Linked DNA regions of Homo sapiens: all the other regions are linked to region 2. The links come from fine-mapping of genetic effects on gene expression. A gene starts in region 2. Each other region holds a variant in brackets. All regions are shown on one strand. Distances are from middle to middle. Region 1 overlaps MYLK4 (myosin light chain kinase family member 4). Region 2 holds the start of MYLK4 (myosin light chain kinase family member 4). Region 3 overlaps WRNIP1 (WRN helicase interacting protein 1).

The links.
Region 1: its variant is fine-mapped to the expression of MYLK4 in tibial nerve (GTEx, PIP above 0.99). The same link has a PIP of 0.9 or more in T cells, adrenal gland, aorta, atrial appendage, blood mononuclear cells and breast.
Region 3: its variant is fine-mapped to the expression of MYLK4 in lung (GTEx, PIP above 0.99).

Annotation. Positions count from the first base shown.
Region 1 is chr6:2,678,180-2,682,422 of GRCh38, forward strand. It overlaps MYLK4 (myosin light chain kinase family member 4), which reads right to left. Exons shown (of 13, transcript NM_001012418.5): 8 at 2,042-2,112; 9 at 1,101-1,229; 10 at 41-193. Among named protein-coding and RNA genes, the nearest start is that of LINC01600, 46 kb to the left of the region's middle. The variant C/T (reference allele first, on the strand shown) is at 2,319.
Region 2 is chr6:2,749,108-2,753,350 of GRCh38, forward strand. It overlaps MYLK4 (myosin light chain kinase family member 4), which reads right to left and starts at 1,815. Exons shown (of 13, transcript NM_001012418.5): 1 at 1,629-1,815; 2 at 29-299. The coding sequence starts at 187. RefSeq lists a silencer at 3,388-3,682.
Region 3 is chr6:2,781,623-2,785,865 of GRCh38, forward strand. WRNIP1 (WRN helicase interacting protein 1) reads left to right here. Exons shown (of 7, transcript NM_020135.3): 5 at 1,784-1,939; 6 at 2,702-2,781; 7 at 3,385-4,243. The coding sequence ends at 3,660. Among named protein-coding and RNA genes, the nearest start is that of WRNIP1, 18 kb to the left of the region's middle. The variant T/G (reference allele first, on the strand shown) is at 2,129.

The DNA of each region.
Region 1 (4,243 bases), 71 kb before region 2:
ATCCCTACTGCGCCCGGAGCACAGGACGAACTTGCGTTACCTCTTCTCCTTAATCAGAAGCTTAGAGATGAACTCCTTGGCCTCCTCCGAGATGTCCTGAAATTCTTCATCCTCTAAGTCCCACCTGCAGGCCAGGATGTTGTTCAGCGTCTCAGCATCATTGTCACCCAGGAAAGGCGACAAACCGCTAAGTCTGGAGGACACGGGGTCCAGAGTGAGTATTTTTTAAACAGCCTCAACCCCTTTCCATACAGATTGCTTTTCTGGTTGTGCCATTTAAAGGTGAGAGAAGGAAAATAACCTAATCCTGAAGCATAATTTTATAACATATTATTGTAATCAAGAAAATGCTTGCCGCCCCCACCCAACTCCTAACTGAACAACTGCAGCAATAACAGAATATGAATATGAATATCAGCTTCCTTTTTAAAGCACTTTTCAGCTTGCAAAGTGCTACTACATGCTCAGATGGCAAACGCTAGGCATGTCACCTCTGAGGGGTGAGGCTAGCCTGAGTCATTTAGGAGATCAGTTTTTTTTTTTTTTTTTTGAGACGGAGTCTCGCTGTGTCACCAGGCTGGAGTGCAGTGGCGTGATCTCGTTTCACTGCAACCTCCACCTCCTGGAAGCAATTCTCCTGCAGCCTCCCGAGTAGCTGGGATTACAGGTGCATGCCACCACGCACGGCTGATTTTTGTATTTTTAGTAGAGATGGGGTTTCACCATGTTGGCCAGGATGGTCTCAATCTCTTGACCTCGTGATCCGCCCACCTCAGCCTCCCAAAGTGCTGGGATTACAGGCTTGAGCCACCGCGCCAGGCCATGTGAGCTTTTTAAATTAATTTTTGGCTTTTAGGTTGTGTCCTAGGAGTTAAAGTGATTAATGAAGAGGACACACATTTACTTTTCCAAATGATGTGCAGGGAAAGAATTCACTCCTTTCACCCACAGGAGTCAACAAAACCTAGAAGGCAACTGAGGATGGGACAGTGTTATTTATTTTTTAAATACCCCAATTGGGGCTTTTATTTAAAACGGCAAAACCTCAGAAAATATGCATGGAGTTGGAGAAGGGTCAGAGACAGAGGAGAGCTACTCACAGCATATAGGCGATGACCCCCACACTCCACATGTCAGTGGGAAATGAAACAAAATCATAGTTCACAACTTCAGGGGCGAGAAATTCTGGGGTTCCAAAGTTCACCTTCAGCTTCTCTCTGGGTTTGTATCTGCAATTTAAGAGACAAAGTGGAAGGATGGACGTGTCGATCAAAAATCGTGAACACTGAAATGATGTAGTCTATGAGACAAAATGACTTCAGCCATACAGCAAACTTCAGACAAACAAACATTGAAGGAAATCAAACAATCAAGCAAGAGGCTCAAAAACTTGTAAAGAGGCCCCAGAAAATTTAAAAGTCAAAATTCATACTAGGAAACCTTAAAAGCTGAACCAGTTGTTGGAGAAGCTGCTGTGAATAATGAGAACATCTGAATTACAGAAGATGACAAGAGGAAAACTGATATAGTCATTGACATGGGGATGATGTGAATAAGCCTGTAAAATGAATAAACACAGTACTGCAATAATTTACAACATCCATTTTATATGTGTCGTTAATGTGCTGAATTGTTAATGTGTCCACGTAAACTCTTTGTTCCCTGAAGAATCTTTTATGTGCCAGAACCCTTTGCAAACTTGCTTACGTTGTTAATATTTTTAAAGTAAATCTTCTCTGTACAGATGGATCAAATATGAAAGAGGGGACAAACTCTTGCAAATGCTAAATTAATGGCTTCTAATTTAATAAACTTCACTGTATTAGGTTTTAATTTTTTATACTTTTTACTGCATGCATTATAGAAACTTCTAAACACTCAAGTCTCAAATTTAGCAAGTTAAGGCCAAACATAATTTTTGTTAAATTAATTATAAATGAGATCATGAAACCAAAGAGCAGATCAGATATATGTTTGCAAAGGAAGGGCAACCATCATGTCCCCCAGCTCCATTCGTACACCTATGTCCAAATAGACATACCTTCTGGCCAATCCAAAATCAATAATTTTTATTTGCTTAGCATCCCGATTCACACACAGGATATTCTCAGGCTGCCAGGAGAAAGAGACACATTAGCAATGAAAACAACCATCATTCACTCAAATTGTCCTTGAACCACAACTAAAAATACAACGATGCTCAGAAAAAACATATCAGGCCTTTCACTTCGGGGCGGGCTTGTCCGTGTGGGTACTTTCTCCTTTAATTATGTGGTGGATGAGGTTGCGGGTATCCTGCCAACCCTGCATTATCCAGC[C/T]TGTCCTCTGCACGGCTTCACAGTTCACCATAATGCCTGAGTTCAGGCAGAGGCCTTGAGGGGAGCAAGAAAAGGAGGTTGCTTCAGTCCTTCCCAAATGTGCTGTGGAGGCCCGCTCAGGCCTGACATCTGCCCCTCTAAATTATTCAGTATGAATTTCCCCTTCTTGGAGAAATATTTTTCCCAAGATTGATGAGTTCCAAGGGAATTGACCTGCTCCATTCAAACAGCCACACTGAACATGCACTGTCACGTGAACGTTCCGGCCTCCAGAGCTTCCCTTTGCTCAACGCCTATGGGAAAGTCGCACGGCAGAGGAGGGCTTTTCTCTCCAGTCGTTCTTCAGTCTCAGCAGTTCCAAGGTTTTGCTGAGTTTGGTCTCAATGCCTAAAACCCCTGACTAAGTGTTCCCTTGGAGCTAGGCCCTGGTAAGACCTTAGCCTGCTGACCTGACAGTCTTGGGGTGCAGGGGGAGAAAATGGGGTGTAGTGCAGCCACTCAGTGTTCACAGAATGCCTTACAAGTGCACCTAATGTTTACTGGGGTAGAAAAACAGAGGTCTTGGGAAAGTAAGAGATTTGATTTAAAGTCAAGGCCATTTATAAAAGAGAAAAAAAGTTTTCAGAGTTAAGAACCCTCAGTCCCAATTCTTTACAAGCTGGAGGGCACCATCCCAGAAGCCAAATGCCCAGGATCCCGTTCCTCAGCCTTTAGTGGGATCAGGCTCCCCTCCCCAACCTGTCCAGGTGGAGAAGAGGTTCCAATGAGATCAGAAATTCAGAAACACATTATGAAATGACATAATGTCTCCTTATCAATATTCAATAGTACATTTGGTTGGGCAGAATATCTTTGGAAGCCCTTTTCTAAACTATCTCTAAAACAGATGTTTGTGAGTAAAAGTCATTATAGAGAAGGGGGTGCTACGTGAACCATTTGGTTTCATGCTTAAATCACTGATGGATCATGTATAAAGCTGTCCAATTGTGAAGGAGTACTGTGGCATCAAAAAGTTTGCAGGATATAGAGAAACCGTTTTGAGGGCATTTCAATAAGTTAGCCTTTTTATGACGATAAAATTAAACAATGTTCATTGGATAAATTTTGCAAAACAGAAAAATATAAAACAGACTGTTTGTAAGTCACCTATAATCTCCCCCCACATACTGACAATCACTCAATATTTTTGGCCCTTTTCCTTCCAAGGAGCTTTCAGAAAAGCAGCTCCTTAAGGACCCATCCAGCTGTCACCTTTATGATGATCTCTGCATCCAAGCCATAACTAAAACTGCCCACTGCAGGTCCTCAATCAATGTTATGAAGCCTCATATGGAGTCATTTGACTTACAATAGGTTTGCTCCTAGTTCCAGTTGCCAATCAAATCCCTGTAGGGATATCTGCAGAATATCTACATTCAATGAAAATGCTCCATGAAAGCATGCATTATCAAACTCAGTTCATAGTGAGGGTTTTGCTAATGATTTTTAGCCTCTGACTTTGTCATTTTATAAACCACTTCCTCCTGCTCTCCTCCTGCTCAAAAGTGAATGGGAAAGGCAAGGCACATAAATCAAGACAGTGAGGGAAGCCAAGTTATAGGAAGAGAGGCCCATGGAAACCTATTTCAGGAGGCTAAATTTATTTAGCTATGCAATCCCTAGTGAATGCAATAGATGGGATGTTATATAGATTGTATATTTTATGTTACTGTCACGCTGTGCAAACAGGGAAATGAGAAAATGACCAAGCCACACAAGACGTACTTTATGATACTTAGTCCCAATATGGGACTTGATCAGGGTTGTTGGGCCTAGGTCTTTTATTGGTTGTAACTAAGACTACATACAGTCCGATTCTAGGAACTTCATAATGAGACATGAGAGAGGTAAAGAGGGAAGGGGCAATCAATAGGAGGAGAAAGAAA
Region 2 (4,243 bases):
TTAGGAGACTAAATTAGAACATGATTACCTCATTATGTCCAGATCTTGAATCCTGGTCCCCAGAATTTTTTTCCAGAAAACACTTCACTTTCTCCACCTCTTCCCTGCACTGAAAAAAGGCCATTTTCTCCAGCTGGTTGCTGTTATAACACGTGTTGAATTCTTCCAGCCTCTTCACTTTTAACATCTTAGTAGTGAGTCCGATTAAGCTACTTTCTGGAGTGTGGTTTTCGTCTCCCTCTGTCTCCGATTTATAAATCAGGACACAATTATGACTCTTCAGTGCTTCTTTCTCTTGACTGCAAAGAAAGGAAACACAAAAAGTTCTCATCACGTATTCATGCATTTGACTTCTTGAGAAAATGACCAGTGAGAATTTGGAAGTCCCTTCTGTTTAAACTGGAGAGAGGATCCAAAATCAGGAAAAGAAATACTAACATTCATATTGAGTTTCCAACATTGGAACTTTAAAAGGAAAAAAAATTTTTTCACTTTAAAACTACAAAAGCAAACAGTAAGAAGCAATGTCAAGATTCACTGGTGATGAAATATGCTCCTTATTGCACAAAACAAGCCGTAGATCAAGTGGCCAGCTTGGATGTAAATTATAAAGTATCTTTGGGTTTAATTGGAACCGCAGGTTTTGCAGCCCCGTGGGAAGGGCTTATCACAGAAGGGGTCTCTCTGCTTCCCCTGGCCTCCCTCTGCAGAGGGATCGCTCCCGAATGAGTCCTTTTCCAGAACTCTTCTCTACCTATGCCTTAAAATGTGTGGTGTTTATTTGTGAAAAGAAATTTATTTCCTTACAGTCTTCTCACGTGGACAGCACTCCCAGATACCTTTCCTTGCATCTGCATTAACAGCTATGTACCGAGAAGTTCAGAGTCTTTTCACTCTCCTTAAAATACTTTCCTCGCAAATGAAGTAATGCAGCATACATAATTCGCTTTGATACTAGAGACATATACGCATGTCTATATGTACACATCACTTGATTGCATAGAGAGGCAGGGAGAGGGAGAGACATTTGAATTTGTGCTAGTTCCGCATGGCTGACAACTGAGGCCCCCTGGTGGAGATTTTCCGAAAAGCGCCTCTTCGAGCATTTTCTCCGCTTAAAAACCGTATTGTGATTCTCATCAGAAAACTTAATATTTTGTTTTGTCAGTTCCTATAGTAAAATGATACTCTTGAGTTCCAAAGTGTTTAAAATTCACTGCTCTAACAAATTATACTTATCCACATAAAGAGCTTACATTCAAACAAATAAAAATGCAAATATTAATACTATCAACCAGAGCTCTACAGATATATTACAGATCATTCTTAGCATTCTTTCAAATTGCCCTGAAAAAATTATTAAAATAAGGAAACAAATGCATGGCTATTTCTAAGGCAAACTACGACTAAAATACTATGGTTAATTGCAGATGAAACTCAAGTTGGATCAGGAAGCCACACAAAATTAATGTATTAAAACAAAAGCTTAGGATTAAGATACAATAATTTTGCAAAGAAATATTAAACATTAAGCTCTACCTGAAGTTTGGTACAATTTGTTATTGAAGGTAACTTAGAAAAAAGGGGAGGAGATTTGAGAGGTTATAACAATAAACAAAGATAATTACCATTGATAGGATCACATCGAAGAGCTTGAGCCACTCCAAGTCTAGAGCATACATTCCAGAAGATAAAGAGAAATTTTGCAGAATTCAAACTGACTATGAAAGTCTCTGGTAAAAGTTTTGACTCTCAGTCGTATAAATCTTCTGAAAAGACAAGTGTCCACTACGAGAGGAAGTATCTTCTCTCTCAAATGCCACTTTCAGCCCCTGTTTAAATTAATATGGCTCTTGATCTCACGTTGCTCAGCTGTTGCCTTCTTAGTCAGATGGGGAAGAATATTAATTTTAGACACCAGGCTTTTCAAGGCCAATGGCTCCATTTCAGAGGTCAGGTAAGGAGAGGATGAACCGGGAACACTGGATGAAATATCACCTTCACCTTTCCCTCGTATCATTGTGTCAATACTCTCGGATTTACAAAGCTAGATTTGTCCTCGGCAATCATCTGCCTGGACCTTCTGCCCCTTTCAGACTCAGGATTATTTAAGTGCTCATTAAATTTCCCCCAGTAGGGAAAATGCCAGGTGTGGCAACCCCACAGCCACCTCTGTTTGCCCATCTTACGCTTTGAGCATATCCAACTGCAATATAGAAGATCTTCTGAAAGCAGTTAGCAAGTTTGTTTTATTTTTCTCAGTTCTTAAAGATGTTTGCAAAGTCTCCAACCATTTCTAGCTCTAGGGAAAGGTCAAAGGCACAGGCATCCAGGAAACAGGAATAAATTTTTCATAAATTCTCCTTAAGCAACACTAGGACTTCATCCGTAGTTTTCTGCACAGACCAAGAAAGGGGAATTTCAACCCACCTGCCCGACTCTCACAGTAGTGCATCCCTAGATTCACTGAAGTGGCATAAAACTTTGATTGCCCAGAGGCTGGACTTTGCAGTCTTGAAAACCCTGCAATTTTTCAGGGCCTGGCCAATTGTCACCTCTTATTTGGAGCCTGTGTTAGCCCCTCTATGCCCCATTCTAACACCAGCCTCTGCTGCTCTTCTGCTTCTTTTAAAAAAAAAACCTTATTTTTAATTCAGATCGATGCATTCCATGTGAAATAAAAATACATATTTTTCCATTTTATGTAGTATTAATGAATTACAGCAAAATCTTTTTTAAAACACAAAACGCTTGTTATTTTTCAGATTGGAGAGCTTTGTTCTTCAGCAAAAGTAATGAAGTGGAACTATAAATTTGTGGAGATAAATTATCTGACAAAAGTATTATACAAAGACTAAGCTGGTTTGAGGTTACCAATTTTGTTAGTATAATTAAATTGTGTAGAAGTACTGATAAGGCAACAAATGCCCTGCCAGAGGCAAGATGTGTGTGGGCTGCTGCTGATCCAACCACATCCTCCACCCGGACCACCACCACGCAAAAGCAGACTTCCTATCTCGTTGGCTCCAGCAAACCAACCACAGGCTTGAGTGAGCCAGAGGCCAGGAGAATCTGCTCCTTAGCTTATTTTTTTGTAATAAACTTTTCCTTTTAGAGTAGTTTTACATCTACAGAAAAGGTGCAAAGGTAGTTCAGAGTTCCCCTTGCCCTGCACCCCGAATCCTCTGTTTTTAACATCTTACGTTGGTATGGTATACTTGTCACAATTAATGAACCATGGTGAACGTTATTATTAACTAAACTCAATACTTTATTGTTGCTGGGTTTTTTTTTTCCCCAAATGCCCCTTTTCTGTTCCAGAATCCCATGCAGGATTCCACAGTACATTTAGAATCAGTAGGATTTATGATAGATTGGGTATGGGGTATGAAAGAAAGATGGTAGACACCTTTGCATATTTTCTTCTGAGCACTTGAAAGACAGAGTGAACATTAACTGAGATGGAGACGGCTGTGGGAAGGGCAACTCTGGAGGGAAAGGTCAGGCATGAAGTCTTTGGCAAGTCCATTAAACGTTCAAGTTGAATAGGCTGTGGAGATAGAAACTGGAGTTCCGGGGAGGGGTGTAGGCTGGAGATAAGAATTTGGAAGGCATCCACATATAGACATTTCCATGCACAATATACATTCAATACATATTTGATTAATGACTAGATAGAATGATCTTTAATTGTGTCTACTTGCCCTAAAAAGCAAGTCAATTAAAATAATCCATGCTAAAAGTGACTGATTGTCTGGTTCTGCTGCATCACACTGTTCCCAGCTTCCGATGGCATACAGGACAAGCACACTGCTGGCACAACCCTTGACCACAAAAAAACAGGTTATACATGCATACTCATTCTGGTCTATCAGCCTAGCCTCAGGATCCTAAGTCCATACCCATAAAATGTTCTGCATGCTTAAAGATGCTCTTATACCCGGAAAAATTCATTAGTGAGGAATATGAGCAGGCCCAGGAACACTTTTCCAGTATTTCCATATTTTGGAGTTATACTTCTCTAAAAAATACCAACATCAGGAAAACAGCACCCTACAGAGCCATGGAAAAGAATCCCTTGATTTTTTTCAAGGGACATTTCCATTAGCTGAGTAAGAGACTGTGTTGTCAAAGGAGCCACATGAAGAAACATCGTCGACAGCTCTTGTCTACGGGTTGGCATTGAAACCCGGCTGGATTACACTAAGAGTTTTTGTTTCTACACAGCGTTCTGAATGTTTCC
Region 3 (4,243 bases), 33 kb after region 2:
CAGAGTGAAGGAATTTCTAAATGAGAGCAAACTCTCTGCCATGCATTGACATCGGGGTTCTATAGAAGTCGTCAGATTTCAGGTTATAAAGCAGTGTGTAATAAAAGCAAACATGGAAGGTAGCATAGAATAATACTAGTATCTATCACTGATGCAAAAGAATCTTTTTACAGTGCCTGCTCTGTGCCAGGCGTGTGTTATTTAATACAGCCCTGTGAGGTAAGTGGTCTCGTTTTTCCCATTTTACAGATGAGAAACCTGAGGCACAGTGAGGATCAGGAACTTGCCCATGGCCCATGAGCTTGGGGGTCCAGCCCAGGCTGTTTGGTCCCAGAGCCTGTGCTCTTGTCCATTATACTGGTGGTATTGCCCCTGGCATTGACAAAGTGGGAAAAGATGACTAACCTGTGTAGGGGGAGTTTAAATTTGACATAAAGTGGTGTGGGTAGTTTCTTCCAGCCCCCATGCCCGTGAGTTTAGCCAGGCCTGTTACCTGCTACCCTCTTCCCCGCCTTCCTCCACCCTGCAGAGGAGCAGAGCGTAGCCTGAGTGCCTGGGCCAGCAGGGTGAGGGAGTGGGCCAGAACCATGCAGATGTCATCCAGGACACCCTCTCGGCCAGTGTCCATAGCACTCTGACTTCACCAGGGGAGCCCTGCACAGGAGACACTCAGTTTGTTCTCAGAAATCCAGTAGCTGGGCTGACCCATCCATCTGCCCTGGCTCTCAGAAACCAGAATCACTCAGGCTGAGCCGTGGGTCCTGCAGGTCTTTCCCCTGTGGGAGGCCAGCATCTTCGCTTGCTCTCTTCTCCACCTGAAGACCAACTGTCATCTTACCAGCGAGCTCAGCTGCCAGGGTTTGTGGCTGGCGCCAGTCGTATTGTGGACATGGGCTTATGCTGAGCACAGACCAGGTGCTCCTCTGGGAGGAGTGAGACTCACGGGAACACCATCCTCCGCTTTCTCGTGAGGAGGGTGCCCCCTCCTTGAACTTACCTAAGGGACGATGGCCAGAGAATAGTGAAATGTATGCAGGTGCCACTGCTTAGTTCCTGAGAACTGTTTAGCTGTCATTTTTTTGCCCTTAAATATGCCTTTTTTTAAAGCACATTTCACTGATTTCATGTGAATCTAGGGTAAAAATGGAGTAGTAAGACCAGGCGGTGAGAGAGTGGGCTTCCGTCCACTTCAGGGCGGAAGCTGGTTAGTCCACGTGTCGGTCCTTCTGGGACCCTGCCACACAGGTGTCCCCACACCAAGGCTGGCAGAAGGAGGTTTAAATGACCACAGGCTTCGGATATCAGAAAGGCAGCTGGAAATGACACTGAGGAACAGATGGGCTATAACAGCTGCCCTTGCCACTTGGCTCTACATCCTCCTGGCTCCGAGCAGGCCCACCGTTGCTTTTCCTCCAGTAGATGGTGGGCCACGGGATAGAGCCAGAACAGAAGACTCGTCCCCCTCCACTCTTGTCTCTGGCAAATCCACCAGCTGGGAGGACCACCTTTCCTCCCTCCTGCCTCTGTGCGTGTGCGTGCACTCCATGTCGACAGCCACAGGTTTCTGCTGCAGCAGCCTCTTCCCCTGAATAGGACTGGGATTAAGCCCCAGCAGCTGGTGCACCCCACTCAGAGCACGGTTAAGGCAGCTGCCCAAACCTCTCCTCGGCTTTCTCAGGGCCTTTATTCGTTCAGGCTTTCTGGAAGTCAGCTGGCGGAGGTGAAGATGGCTTGGGCGCCCCTCCTGTGAGCTCTGTGTGAGTGGTGCTCTTTGTGATGTCAGGTGAGGAGCATTACAACTGCATCTCCGCCCTGCACAAGTCCATGCGGGGCTCAGACCAGAACGCCTCCCTCTACTGGCTGGCTCGCATGCTCGAGGGAGGAGAGGACCCACTCTACGTGGCACGGAGGCTTGTCAGGTTTGCCAGCGAGGACATAGGTGAGTGTGATGGGAGGGTCCCGGAGTCCTATGTCCATGAGGGTGGGGAAATGGCTAACAGTTACATCGTGGCTTTTTTTTTTTTTTTTTTTGCAGGGCGGGGTGGGCGGGGGTAGCAGGAAGAATGTCTCAGGGCTATGTGAGACTGGCAGGAGAAGATAAGACTTTATGCCTGAGCTCAGTCGTTTA[T/G]TTCCTGGTGTATGTGCTTTTGAATGTTTATGTTCATAAAGTCACCATTTTCTGTTTCCTCTTCGGGAATGTTTTTACTAACATGAGTGGCTATTCAGAGTATTGCAATAGATGAGCTGCTTTTAAATTTGCTTTAAGTCAGGTGTTCAAGGTTTTCTTTGGACAGCTCCCAAGGTAGAAATGGAAGACTCTAGACACTATATGAAGAAAAAGATCAGGAAAGCTCTCCTCTTCTTTGGTCTTAGGGGATGTTTTGTTTTTAGTGTTTCCATCCTGGTGAATGTCTCCATAGCCTTCACTTCTTATGTTTGTTATACAGAGACTCATGTTTTTCTAGATGCAGAGTTTTTATCCACAAGGAAACAGTTCTTAACACCACACAGTAACCACTCTCAATATTTCTTGCATAAGTTCATGGGATCAGAGACTAGAGCTAAGTCAGGCTGTTTTGCTACATGGGATTGTTTTGGTCACCAAGTGTACAAGCAGTGGTGGTCTGTGGTCGCCTGCACATAGGCCAGGAGGACAGTGTGTGTCATGACTGAAACTCTCCTTTGTCTCTGTGTGTGGCAGGTCTGGCAGACCCGTCTGCGTTAACACAAGCGGTTGCTGCCTACCAAGGCTGTCATTTTATAGGCATGCCTGAATGTGAGGTAAAGTAATCAGCTCATTTCTTGCAAATCACTTCTTTTCTCTCTCGTGCTCTGTCCCTTTGTAGATTTGAATAAATGTCCCTCCTTCACCATTGGTGTATTGGACCCACTGAGTATGCTGCTTGGCTTTGGAATTCCAATTGTAGACTCTTAGACTCCTAGAGAGGGAAACCTTCTGTGTCAACGAGGTCATGTTTCAAACTGTTCTCGGGATTCCGGGGTTCAGAGCACATGCTCCATATGTTCCAGGGAGCAGAAAGGTTAAAGGAGCTGAACAGCAAAGCCTCTGCAAGTTCGCCCCCAGAGCAGCTTCATATTCATCTCTTTTATATATTGGGGGCTTAAGAAAAATTTAATGTAGTAAAAAGTCCTTCAGTTAAAAAAAAAAATGAAAACCACTCACCTGGTTTGCCTCTCGTTTCACCTCATGAGAATTTCTTCTGTCTGTCGTAGGTGGTTATCCAGACTGTAGGCGCAAAAGGGGGATAATAAAAGCATGTGGGGATCTTCTCAGAATTACCTAGAGCTGTGTATCAGAAGGGGCTCTGCAGAACAGAAGCTTGGCATCTTGCTAGTAAAATGTGTCCTCTGTGTCATTGGTAGGTGCTTCTGGCCCAGTGTGTGGTCTACTTTGCCAGAGCCCCAAAGTCCATTGAGGTGTACAGCGCCTACAACAACGTCAAAGCCTGCCTGAGGAACCACCAGGGGCCACTGCCCCCCGTGCCCCTGCACCTGAGGAACGCGCCCACTAGGCTGATGAAGGATTTGGGCTATGGCAAAGGCTACAAGTACAACCCCATGTACAGCGAGCCTGTGGATCAGGAGTACCTGCCTGAAGAGTTGAGGGGGGTAGATTTCTTCAAGCAGAGGAGGTGCTGACTCCTCAGGGCACGACAGCAGAAGGATGTTGCTTTTTTAAGGGAGGGCCAGAAAGAAAGTTAGTGGATTGCAAAGTTGGTTGCCTGGTGGAAGTTAGAACAGACCAACATTTTGTGCCAGAAATTTAAGAGTTCCATAGGTGGAGGCGCAGTTCTTTCGAATAAATGTGTAACTTTGAAATTGTGTTCATTTGCACTCGGTGCAGCGGTTATGCTTATGAAAATACCTGGCAGCTTTGTGCAATGAATTAATGTTATAAGGAATTATCTATTTTGTCATAGTATTTAAGTCATAATGTCATTTCAGAATTCAGTTCTGTAGGATTTTCTTTTCTTTAAAAAATGTATATTCTGGGTAGTTTTAATTGGTAAAAAAATGTAATTGTGATTTAATACTGCATAGTGTTTTGGGTATTTTTTTTATATGCAAAGGTCTTACGAGCCAATAAAACTATTTCAAAGTACTCTTCGATTCTGTCATGGTTTTCCTGCCTGGATGCTAGGTACCAGCGTTGTCACCATTGCATTTGGTGGGTGGATACTGGGAAGGAGAAATCACCCCAGATGGGAAGAGTGGGGAGCTT